3 separate regions of the Homo sapiens genome follow, and regions 2 and 3 are each linked to region 1. The links come from fine-mapping of genetic effects on plasma protein levels. Region 1 holds a variant in brackets. A gene starts in each other region. All regions are shown on their reverse strands.

What was found. PIP is the posterior inclusion probability: the model's chance that the variant is causal. The UK Biobank Pharma Proteomics Project read protein levels with antibody pairs (Olink). The fine-mapping took linkage between variants from a reference panel, not from the people measured, so its PIPs are less certain.
Region 2: it holds the start of ICAM2, and the variant in region 1 is fine-mapped to the plasma level of the ICAM2 protein (UK Biobank, PIP above 0.99).
Region 3: CD28 starts here. The variant in region 1 is fine-mapped to the plasma level of the CD28 protein (UK Biobank, PIP 0.94).

What each region holds. Positions count from the first base shown.
Region 1 is chr11:126,356,184-126,360,183 of GRCh38, reverse strand. All of the region lies in intron 1 of ST3GAL4 (ST3 beta-galactoside alpha-2,3-sialyltransferase 4), which reads right to left. Among named protein-coding and RNA genes, the nearest start is that of ST3GAL4, 2.5 kb to the right of the region's middle. RefSeq lists enhancers at 1,149-1,890, 3,540-3,689, 3,377-4,000. The variant C/T (reference allele first, on the strand shown) is at 2,984.
Region 2 is chr17:64,018,478-64,022,477 of GRCh38, reverse strand. ICAM2 (intercellular adhesion molecule 2) reads left to right here and starts at 1,845. Exons shown (of 5, transcript NM_001099789.2): 1 at 1,845-1,955. RefSeq lists enhancers at 1,406-1,455, 1,676-1,765, 1,511-2,011, 2,106-2,225.
Region 3 is chr2:203,703,818-203,708,157 of GRCh38, reverse strand. It overlaps CD28 (CD28 molecule), which reads right to left and starts at 1,519. Exons shown (of 4, transcript NM_006139.4): 1 at 1,410-1,519. The coding sequence starts at 1,461. RefSeq lists an enhancer at 1,490-1,639.

The sequences.
Region 1 (4,000 bases):
CTGCCAGGAATCCCTCCTCCCAACCTGAGCAACCTCTAAGAGACAGGGAGGGCTGCCGGTGCGGAGCTTGTCTGTGGGCAAAACAGCTCACCATGTTGGAAGGAGAATTGGGTCTTTGGGAGCCTCTCTGGCCTTGAGCCAGCCCAGGACGGGCATCAAGGAGGGCCAGGCAGCCAAGGTGCTTCTGCCTGGCAGGAATCAGGATGCCAGACGCCAGGAGCAGCCACTTTGGCTGGGTTCCCTGTGCTTAGACCCCATAGGGCCCCTCCCCTTCCCCACGTGTGGCCGTGGTTGCCTTGCAGCCATGTGGGCGGCAGCCACATTTCCAAAGGAATAGGAGCTGCAGGCAGGCCAGATGGAAGCAATTGCCAAGGGAAAGCAGCAGAGGTGGGGGCTGGGGAGGCTGGGAGGGCCCACGGGGAAGGAGGGAAGGAGGGAAGGAGGGAAGGAGGGAGGGAGAAGAACCTTGTCCTGCCCCGCCCCGCCCAGCTGAGAAAGCGGACAAGCGTGTGCTCAGGGTACGGCCCGGCCGGGATGTGGGGTTCGGGAGAGCACTCAGAGGTCAGGGTTTGTGTTCCACCTTTGACACTAATACACTGTGGCCTTGAGCAAACCCCTTCACGCCTTTGAGCTGGGATCTGTTTCTTCATGGGGCAAAATGAGCAAACTCCAGGGGGCAGTTGAGAACTGGGCTGAAAAGTGAAGGTTTTGGAAGCAAGCCTGGATTTGAGTCCTAGCTCAGCTGCTTACGAGCTGTATGACCTTGGCCAAGTAACTTAATCCTTCAATCCTCCATTTCTTCATTTATAAATGGGCTTAATTACAGGGTTGTGTGAAGCTCACATGAAGGGACGTAAAGTGTCTAGCACATCTTTTTTTTTTTTTTAAGTTTATTGGGCCAGGCTTTTAATAAGTGCCTGATTGCTAAATGGTAATATTTTTGTTATTTGCTGAGGCCATTTTCATTATGGGGACAGATGTACAGATGTTCACCCATGCTGCAGTTGGCAGAGGACGCAGAGCACAAGTAGGGTCGCTGCAGACCAGCATTCCTTAGCACTCTCCAAACTGGTCCCAGCACTCTTTGGGGCTGCCTCCCCTAAACAGGAAAGCAAGATCCTGAGGACCCCAACCCCCATGCACAGGCTTGAATGAGCTGCAGGTGGGACAAAGGAACTCTCCTACTCAGGTGCTTCTGGGCTTCTGCAGCCAGGCCAGGCCTTCCTCACAATCAAGGCCCAGGTGGGAAACTGGAGGCCCAGCCAGACCCACACCTCACTTCAGCCCGAGCAGCAGCAACCTCCTCCCTGCTGGGCCAGCAGTGGCACCCAGGGCTTCAGTATAGGCAATCCTACCATCTTATCACATCCTATCACAGGGCAGTGTGGGGTACAGGGGAACAGAGATGGGGTTGTGGCCAGGCTGTAGGTCCCAGGTAAAGGGCTCAGCCAACACTAAAAACCCACAGCTCTGGACACCCACACCCTCTAACCCCGAAATGCAACAACCCAAGCAACCTTTGGGGGAATTCAGCCCCTGCAGGGCTCAGGGGCTCCAGTCAGAAAGCTGACCAGCACTTGGCTAGGGCCTGGGCATCGCACGCTGCTGCTCTCACGTGAAGCTACACTGACCACTTCCTCAGTCTGTAGAATAAAGGACATCATTCACACACCTCCCTCCCCGAAATGTGGCAGGGGTTGGGGTGATTCTGAGGCCAGGGACAGCCAGTAGTCCATCCAGGGCCACTCAGGACACTCATACAGAAGCCTCTGGGAAGGGGGCAACAAAGAAGAGGGGGTTAATAACAAGAGTCACCCAAATCTGCCTACACTCACCATTTCCTCCCGGCAACCAAAAGCTTCAGGTCAAGGTCGTGGGTCTTGAGTAGGAAGGAGGATCCCAGCGTGAGGGAAACACGGAGCGGGAGCTAAACCACCAGCAGGGGCCTGTTGCAGGGAAACGTCCAGCCGGCCCAGTGCGACTGAACTGAGGGGGCAGGAAGCAGGGGCTGTTTGCTCGGGGTGTCCCACCCTGCACTGCTGGACTGCCCCGCTCTCCAGCATCTAAGGTCCATCTCCGAGGGGCCAGGAGCTGGGCTAGGCTCTAGCGGCTGCCTTGATGGCAATCTGTAGGCTTGGACTTCAGACCCCACTTGGGGCCCAAGCTCCCTCTCCATCCCCTGCAGGCCCCCCAGCCAGCTCCTTTCCCTATCGGCCCAGGGTCTGGAACTTGGCAGGCACGGAAACATTTGTATTAGTCCAAGATAGAGGGATCCCTTCCCTCCAACAGATGGTGCAAACCTTTGAGCCATTCTGAGAAGAATTCCCAATTCCATTGGGACAACCCCAGGAGCAGCCTCTCTGAGGAGAGACCCAGAGAACGTGCCCAAGTCAGACCTGGGGTAGCCCCCAAAGCAAGGGCAGATGGTGGCCAGTGGGGAGTTAGGACAGAATGACAGCTCAAGATGGAGCACAGAAAGGGGGTTTGGTCTCTCTGCTCCTGCTGGGGAAGGGAGCCCTTTCCAGGATTAAAAGTCCAGAAAGGAGCAGATTCTTAGTTCTATCCAGAAAACCGGATTCTAGGAGTCTAACGAGGTTGGGAGGCTGGCGGGGGCACGGCACTCTCTTCCTGAGAAGCAGAGGGCCAGTCACTGCTTCCCGTAGGGAAGGCAGCCCAGAGGCACCTCAGCCTGGGCCGCCAGCTCACAGAGAAGGCGGCCCTGTTGTCTCTGAACAACAACCCATCCCCAAGCTAAAGACACCCACTCTGCCCAAAGTCCAAGCTGGCAATTTCCAATTCACTCTTCTAACTCTTCCTTCCATGTGCACCCTCACAACCTCGGTTACCATCTTGGAGTCTGGGGGATCTGGCCCCAACTCCTGGCAAGCTCCCCATGTCTTGACAGAGCCCAGGGCCCATGGGGCAGCTTAGGATCACCCACCCAGCGCAATGGGGCCAGGCACAGGAGCAGTCTGGGAGTGGG[C/T]CAGGAGCAGGGCAGGGAACGGTCAAGGGGCATTCCCAGACCAGCTCTCAGCAAGCAAAACAACCTCCCGAGTTCATTTCTAGGCCCCAAACAGCGGGCACGTCCCCGGAACCCACTCTAGAATTATCGGGCAGCTTTGGAGAGTAACAGCATGGGAGAAATATTACCAATAGTGAATATTTATACAGCTCTCCCTCCGTGCAGGCGCCTTTCAAAGCACTTAGCATATATCAACTCATTTAAAATCCCCCTGGCAGATGCCAGGGCCAGGACCTAGAGGAGGTGGAGTCTGTAGGACGGGTCCGGCACAGCTCAGGAGACAGTGACACGGGTGTGTGTCTCTTGTGAGAACTCAGCCTGTACCAGGCCTGTTCCCAAAGTTCAAAAAGAATGAGTCCGCCTGAGCCTGGCTTCCACGCGGTACCCGCCTCCGGCGGTGGAAAGTACAGGCTTCCCCAAGAGGCCTGTGGGGGGTGCCAGCTTGTGGGTGGCCATGAGGTCAGACAGGGCACAGCTGGGCACCCGAACACTGCCTACACTCCCAGCCTTCTGGCAGCAGTTCCCTTAAGCCAGGCCCTCAGGACCCAGGCTGGGGAGCAGAGGAAGCAGCCACAGTAGGTCAGGCCTCAAGCTGCCCAGACAGAGCCTCCCCCCAGGACTGGGAATGGAGGGGCAGTGCTGGCAGACATGTTGGCAGTTCTGGGCTGGCCGGGAGGTCCCTGCCAGCCAGGTCCCCGAGGAAACACCCACAGCAGACAGCTGAGCCCACTCCCCCCATCGCATCCCTCCCACTGCTCACCACCCATGCAGCCCTGAGGCACAGTGGCCTAGGCCTGACGACCCCCATAACGTGGCCCTAGGACCCTGGGCACAGCCGGCCTCCCACTGACAACTCCACCTTTGGGTCCTGCTCAGCGACCTTGCGACTCCTGCACACAGGCGGACCCCGCAAAGCCTGTCACCTCCAGCACAGTCAGCTCCCAAGTGCTGGACCTGACCGGGGTAGTTGTGGGAGAA
Region 2 (4,000 bases), not on the chromosome of region 1:
TTGAAGTCCTAGACTCAAGCAATCCTCCCACCTCAGCCTCCCAAAGTGCCGGATTTACAAGTGTGAGCCACCAAGCCCAGTCAGAATTACCACTAAAAAAAAAAAAGAAAAAAGGTTAAGATGGTAGATTTTGTTGTGTATATTTTACCATTATGATCCAGCATTTCCACTTCTGGGTACATACCCCAGAGAACTGAAAGCAGAGTCTTGAGCAGGTATTTGTACAACCCTGTTTGTAGCAGCACTATTCACAATAGCCAAAGGTGGAAGCAACACAGGTGTCCATCAGTATATGAATGCATGAACAGAATGCGGCACACACGCACAATAGGATATTGCTCAGCCTTCAAAAGGAAGGCAGTTCTGGCCAAGCGTGGTGGTTCATGCCTGTAATACCAGCACTTTGGGAGGCTGAGGTGGGCGGATCATTTGAGGTCAGGAGTTCGAGACCAGCCTGGCCGACATGATGAAACCCCATCTCTACTAAAAATACAAAAATTAGCCAGTCGGCACGTGCCTGTAATCCCAGCTACTCAAGAGGCTGAGGCAAGGCCAGGCACGGTGGCTCATGCCTGTAATCCCAACACTTTGGGAGGCCAAGGCGGGCGGATTGCCTGAGCTCAAGAGTTTGAGACCAGCCTAGGCAACATGGTGAAACCCCATCTCTGCTAAAATACAAAAGAAATTAACCAGGCGTGGTGGCGTGCACCTGTAGTCCCAGCTACTCAGGAGGCTGAGGCAGGAGAATTGCTTGAACTCGGGAGGCGGAGGTTGCAGTGAGCCGAGATCACACCACTGCACTCCAGCACTCCAGCCTGGGCGACAGAGTGAGGCTCCATCTCTACAAAACAAACAAACAAACAAACAACAACAACAACAACAAAAACACTGAGGCAAGAGAATCGTTTGAACCTGGGAGGCAGAGGTTACAGTGAGCCAAGATCACACCACTGCACTCCAGCCTGGGCAACAGAGCGAAACTCCATCTCAAAAAAAAAAAAAGAAAGAAAAGAGAAAGAGAGAGCTCCAGAGATGGATGGTGGTGATGGTTGCAGAACAATGTGAATGTACTTAGTGCCCCAAACTGTACACTTAAACATAATTAAAATGGGCCTAGCACGGTGGCTCATTCCCAGCATTTGGGAGGCTGAGGTGGGAGGATTGCTTGAGCTCAAGAGTTTGAGACCAGGCTGGGCAACATAAGCAACACTCTGTCTCTACAAAAACTACAGAAATTAGCCAAGCCTGGTGGCTGCACACTTGTAGTCCCAGTCACTTGGGAAGTTGAGGAGGGAGGGTCACTTGAGCTCAGGGGTCAGAGGTTGCCACGAACTGTGATTGTGCCACTGCACTCCAGCCTAGGTGACAAAAGCAAGACTCTGTCTTAAAAACAACACAACAAAAAATTGGCTGGACGCAGTGGCTCTTGCCTGTAATCCTAGCACTTTAGGAGGCCGAGGAAGGCAGTTCACTTGAGGTCAGGAGTTCGAGACCAGCCTGGCCAACATGGTGAAACCCTGTCTCTACTAAAAATACAAAAATTAGCCAGGCGTGGTGGCAGGTGCCTGTGGTCCCGGTTACTCTGCGGGCTGAGGCACAAGAATCACGTGAACTCGGGAGGCAGAGGTTGCAGTGAGCCGAGATCACACCACTGCACTCCAGCCTGGGTGACTGAGACTCAGTCTAAAAAAAAAAAAAAAATTGAAATGGTAAATTCTGTTGTGTACGTTTTACCACAATTAAAAAAAAAAAAAGCGGAATGGGAGTGGAGCTAAATGAGGCTAGTTTAGGGTGGGAACCGGGGCACAGGAAGCACGTCACTTCTGGTGGGGAGTGGGGGGAGGGAGAAGACTGAATAAGCCGTGAACTGGGCAGCTGTGACACGCGCACCTTGTCACCTTGTCACCAATTTCCTGCCCGGGATCCCAGAGCTACCCTTCTTGGAGCCCACAGGGGTAAGGTTGAGCTTCTCACTTTCCCTCCAATGAAGCGTGGCAGCATGGGAAGGATTTTGGCAGTGTCGAGGTCTGAGTTTTAGTCCGTTCCCCTCTCTGGGTCTCAGTTTCTCGCTGGTAAGTGCAGGGGTTGGGGAATCCCCAGCGCTCCTGTGGCTCGACATTCTGCACTCTGTGAAGCTCCTGCCCTGCCCTGCTGGGTCTCTGAGCTCACGCACTTGCCCTGGCGCTCCTTTCCTGATTTGTCTCCCCTCTCTCCTTCCTCTGCTCTGCCATCTCGGTGGCCGATGTAGAAATGTGGGGCTGCCTCCTTATTTAGGGGCCCACGTGGGCTGTGATCTGGACCATCTGAGCTGATGCAGAGGGGAAGGGACAGTCCCTGTTCTCCCCGGCAGGCGTGGTGGGTTCATAATGAATCTCAGTCACTCACTTCCTACCTGCCTCGGTTCGAGGGGGTCTTTCCTAACCCATGGCTCACATTCCCATGAAGCCTCTTCTTTCTAGGCACGTAGAAAGGCCCTTTTTCCCTTTTATTATTTTTGTAAAATTTACTAGGTAACGCATAAAAAGCTTATGTAACATACATATACATCATACTGCACAGTAATATACCAAACACACCTGAAGCTGCCACTCAGCACAAGGATGGAGTATCACCAAACTGCAAACACCACTTATCTGCTTTTTTTTTTTTTTTTTTTTTTTGAGACAGAGTTTTCATTCTTGTCGCCCAGGCTGGAGTGCAGTGGCACAATCTTGGCTCACCACAACCTTCGCCTGCTGGGTTCAAGCGATTCTCTTGTCTCAGCCTCCCAAGTAGCTGGGACTACAGGTGCGCATGCCACCATGCCCAGCTAATTTTTGTGTTTTTGGTAGCGACAGGGTTTCACTATGTTGGCCAGGAGAGTCTCGATCTCTTGACCTCATGATCCGCCCACCTCGGCCTCCCAAAATGCTGGGATTACAGGCGTGAGCCACCACACCTGGCCACCACTTGTCCACTTTTATGCTACTTGCCTCCCACCCACAGGTAGCCACCCTCTGGAATTTTGTGTTTATTGTTCTCTTATTTTTAAGTGCTTTATTACATATGCATCTCTATTTATTTATTTATTTATTTATTTACTGAGATGGGGTCACACTATATTTCCCAGGCTGGAGTGCAGTGGCTATTCACAGGCATGATCATAGCACACTACAACCTCGAACTCCTGGGATCCAGTGATCTTCCCACCTCAGCCTCCTGATTAGTTGGGACTACAGTCTTGAACTGCTGCACCTGGCTATGCCTATTTATTTTTATTTTATGAAACAGTTATATAGCGTTACTGTGTGCTAGGCACTGTTCTAAATGCTTTAAAATATTTACTTATTTTATTTGTTTAATCTGCACAAAAACCCTATGAGGAAGATACTATTATTGATTCCTTTTTGCAGATGAGGAAATTGAGGCACAGAAAGATTAAGTGATTTGCTCAAGGTCACACAGATAGTGAGAAGTAAGGCCGGGAGCAGTGGCTCATGCCTGTAATCCCAGCACTTTGGGAGGCCAAGGCAGGAGGATCATGAGGTCAAGAGATAGAGACGGTCCTGGCCAACAAGATGAAACCCCATCTCTACTAAAAATACAAAAATTAGCTGGGTGTGGTGGCGTACGCCTGTAGTTTCAGCTATTCGGGAGACTGAGGCAGGAGAATAGCTCGAACCCGGGAGGTGGAGGTTGCAGTAAGCCAAGATCGCGCCACTGCACTCCAGCCTGGGCGACACAACGAGACCCCGTCTCAAAAAAAAAAAAAAAAAAAAAAAAAAGAGAAGTAAACACAAAGACATGTCTGGTTCTTAGTGTGACAGCGTTTCTAGGGCATACATCTAAGAATGGAACTGTGAGTTACAGGGTATAAGAATATTCCGTTTACAAGATAATGCCTAATTATCTCTGAGAGCACCAATATACACTCTCATCAGCAGTTAGAAGGGTGCCTATTAACCTACGGCCTCTCCAACAATTGGTCTTGTCATATTTCTTAACTTTTGCCAACCTAATA
Region 3 (4,340 bases), not on the chromosome of region 1:
TTTGGGCTATGTACACTTAATGTTTAAGAATAACAACAAATAATGCAGTCTCTGTACTGCCAAAATAAGAAAGAAAATTGAGGATACTGGCTTTTCAATGTATCTTTCAGGGAAAAATAACTGTCCTTATTTAAGCATGACTGTTGACCCCTATCAGTCCAGTTTTTGAACCAAGCGGGGGCCTTTTTCTAACTCTGAGAACACGTTGAATGAGCATCTTACTCCAGCCCACCCAAGTAACAAATTCTTTCTGTTAGGAATTGTGCTTGTGATTTTCCGAAGTTAATTTAACCCTGGATTTACCTGAGTCCATGAAATTACAAATCACACCATGTTAGATGGAATAGCATAATAATCAACAACACCGGCACTGGAGTCAGACTAAGGTGGTTCAGACCCTGCCTCCTATAGCTGCCACCTGTACATCCTTGGGCAAATCCCTTAATGTGCCTACCCCTCAGTCTCTTCATCTGAAATGAAGTTAACTGTAATACCTACCTTCTAGTTACGAGAACTGTGTGCTGCTCAAAGTGCTAGATGTATTATCCTCCTCATCATCGTCATTGGGAACTTAAAGAATTTTAATCTAAGAAAATACATTTTGGCCGATTGTAAAAGAAAACTAATTTATTAATATTGGTGTTGTAGCAGCTTCTGTGGTGACTCCAGAATTCATGTTGGAACTCATTCAATTCAGGTAGATAGAGTAATTACAGTTCACATTTATCTTGAAGCCTGACTGAGCTAAGCCCTTCGCATGGATTATTTCATTTTACCTCACAATGACCTTGAGGTGAGGTTTATTATTATTCCCACTTTACAGTTAAGGAAACTGAGGTTTGGAGAGTTTAAATAATAGCTAAGCCTAAGCTTACCTAGTGAGAATTGGACCTGTGTTAGGAACATAGGCAACCTAAATTCAGAGCTTCCAGAGCCAATCTACTTACAGCAGCTTTCTTAAATTAAAAAAAAAAAGAAAGAAAGAAAGAAACGATACATAAATTAAAAATTATTGGCCGGGCATGGTAGCTCATGCCTGTAACCCTAGCACTTTGGGAGGCAGAGGCAGGTGGATTGCTTGAGCTCAGAAGTTTGAGACCAGCCTGGGCAACATAGTGAAACCCCATCTCAATTTAAAATAATAATAATAATAATAAATTCTTGGGACACTATCAACTAATAGCTAGAGAAACTAATAGCTTAGAAAATTTATTTCCAAGGGACTTTTGTTAAGATACTATATTGTAGTCTGAGAATCAATGATTTTCAAAATAACACATTGCCCTATTACAGCAAAACTACACTTCAAATGTTCAAATTTCACACATTGTTAGAAATTTAAAATAAACTAAGCCAATTGGAAGACCTCAAAAAATATTTACAGAAAGAAAGACATTAACATTGTTTACCTGTTACTTGAATTGAAGGGAATAAGTTGAGAGCCAAGAGCAGCCTGAGCATCTTTGTCCTGACGATGGGCTAGGGTTCCAGCCCCTCCTCCCCGAGGAACCCGAAGTGTGAGGGGAACTGAAAGACGCACCTGCCAAGGCCTGAGAGTCTCCGTCATCCACGGCCACCACCACCGCCACCATCCCCTTAGGGCACATGATCAAGGCACTCAAACCACAAGGCATCCTGACTGCAGCATTTCACACAGGATATAACGTTGTTTTGATGACTTTAGACTTTTACTTCTATTTTTAAAGACTTTTTTTTTGTCACTGAAAAATAGTCGGTCACTACATGATGGGCTTATGGGAATTATTCTTTATTGATGGATATCAAGAGTTGTGTAAAAGGGGTGCTTGAAATCCAGCAGAGATTAAAGGGGAGACAAAGTGTTCTTAAGAAGGAACAGGCCGGGTGCAGTGGCTCACGCCTGTAATGCCAGCAATTTGGGAGGCCAAAGTGGGTGGATCATTTGAGGCCAGGAGGTCAAGACGAGCCTGGCCAACATGGTGAAACCCCGTCTCCATTGAAAATACAAAAAATTAGCCAGGCATCATGGTGGGTACCTGTAATCCCAGCTACTAGGGAGGCTAAGGCAGGAGAATCGCTTGAACCCAGGAGGTGGAGGCTGCTATGAGCCGAGATCATGCCACTGCACTCCAGCCAGGGCAACAGAATGAGAAAAGAAAGACAGAAAGAAAGAGAGAAAGAAAAGAAAAGAAAAGAAAAGAAAAGAAGGAAAGAAGGAAGGAAGGGGAGAGAGAAAAAAGAAAGGAAGAAAGAAAGAGAGAGAAAGAGAAAGAAAGAAAGAAAGAAAAGAAAGAAAGAAAGAGAAAGAAAGAAAGAAAGAAAGAAAGAAAGAAAGAAAGAAAGAAAGAAAGAAAGAAAGATGGAAAGAAAGAAAGAGGGAGGGAGGGAAGGAAGGAAGGGGGAGAGAGAGAAAGAAAGAATAAAGTCTCTAGCAGAGGAGAGATTTTCATAGGATGGGGACAGGTTGTGTCAAAAAGATAATGGTAAGAATTCTACTGAGGAATTGGGAAACATCTGCATAAACGTTTAAAGGAGTTACAAATATTAGAAATGTAACATTTGTGTAGGACATAAGGTAGCCCTCTGGAGCATTTAGCACACAGTGCTTGATTTATGTCAAGCCTCCTCCAACTCACTTCTAGGAACTTTGCAAAACCCATTCTACGTGCAAGCAGCCAGCCAGCTGAGTATCTGGGGGAGGTTCCCTAAGCAAAGGGAAAGTCAAAACAACATTCTATGTTCTTAGTGGGACAGTAAGGCAACCAAAAGCCCCTTGGTGTCTCATGCTCTCTATGTCCCTCAAGGTTAAGTAATAGGGCACAAAAGGAGGCTCCGTGGCAGGATTTCTGAGATTCATAACCACCACCCGACTGCACCCTTCTTCAACTCCCAGGCCCTTTGCAGAGAGGGTTATTCCACCAGCACGGCCAACTGCTCTCTTCTTCCGGCACCTACGTCAGTATCTTGTACTCAATGACTTCTTCAAAACTTTTCCAGTAATTTTTTTCTTCTTTTTGATAATCTAAGCTTTGTGCAATTACTCTAGTTGGGGGTTTTGTGTATGTGGGTTGTTTTAAAAGATAACTTGTATTGCTTTTTATTCTGACTATAAAAGTAAGGCATATTTCATTGAGAATGTTTAGAAAAATTATAAGCATTAAAACAAGATTCATCCACATTCTTACCACCCTAATATAAACACTGCTAATATTCTGGTCCACTGCCTTCCACCTGTTGGTCTGTTAAGATTTTTACATGTTTAATATCATGTTTTACTTATAGTTTTCATCAGATATGTACTATTATTTGTTATATCTTGAACATTTTCCCATGTCATTTAAGTATCTTTATAAACATTATTTGTAATTGATGCATAATATTCCATTCTCTAATTATATCATAAATTGTTTAACAAACCCCTAGTGTTGTTACCTTTTTTTCTTCGCTATTTTAAAATGCTACAGTCAAACTCTTTGATGACCTAGCTGTAAGAGGAGGCAGGCTTCATGTCCCTCCCTCCTGATCTGATAAATGACAGATCAAAAGTATTTCCTGTCCTGGTAGACCTTCTTTGTTCACACTTCAATTTTCCCACAAACACAGTCTTTGTGAACCCCTCTTACTAACACATCTTTTGGTCCTTTGGAGAAATTTGTCCTTGGAAATGATTCACTCACACTTCTGAACTATAGGTAAGTGACAAAGCTATGCCCTGAGTCCTGGAGAAGATTCACTTCTAGAATTTGACACAGTCTTCCTGGCTCTGATCCTCTATCCAGTTAGGGGAACCCATGCCTTCCCCAGGGCCTGAAGTCTATCTGGGGGAAAATTTACAGATGGCAAGGTGACCTTTCCTAAAAGGTCATCCATATTCTAGAGCCACCAGCCTACCCAGATCTTAAAACAAGAGGCTCTGAGACTCATTATACATACTGAGAATATACACAGAAGAAACAAAGATACCCAGTAGTTTTCCATGATCAACAACAAAAGGCTAAGGAGTGAGTTAATAACTGTCTTCAAGCATATTAAAGATGACTACATAGCATCTAGTTAATACTATGTAAATAGTAGTAATCGGGTCAAACTTAGCTGAAAAAGAAACAGTTCACTCATCTGGCCTAATTCCCTTATCTTGCAGAGAAGGAAGCTGCAGCCCAGAGAGGTCAGCTCATTTATACGAATTCACAAAACAATAATTAAATATTATTGGCCTTATTATTTGATGAGCCATATTTAATTTTCTTTCCATAGAATAAAAAGAAACACAAACTTTGACATTTGCCTTCCTATGTTTTAACATGTATGACACTAAAGAAGCAAACCATTTCATTAGAATCCTTTCACATTTGCTTTTGAAA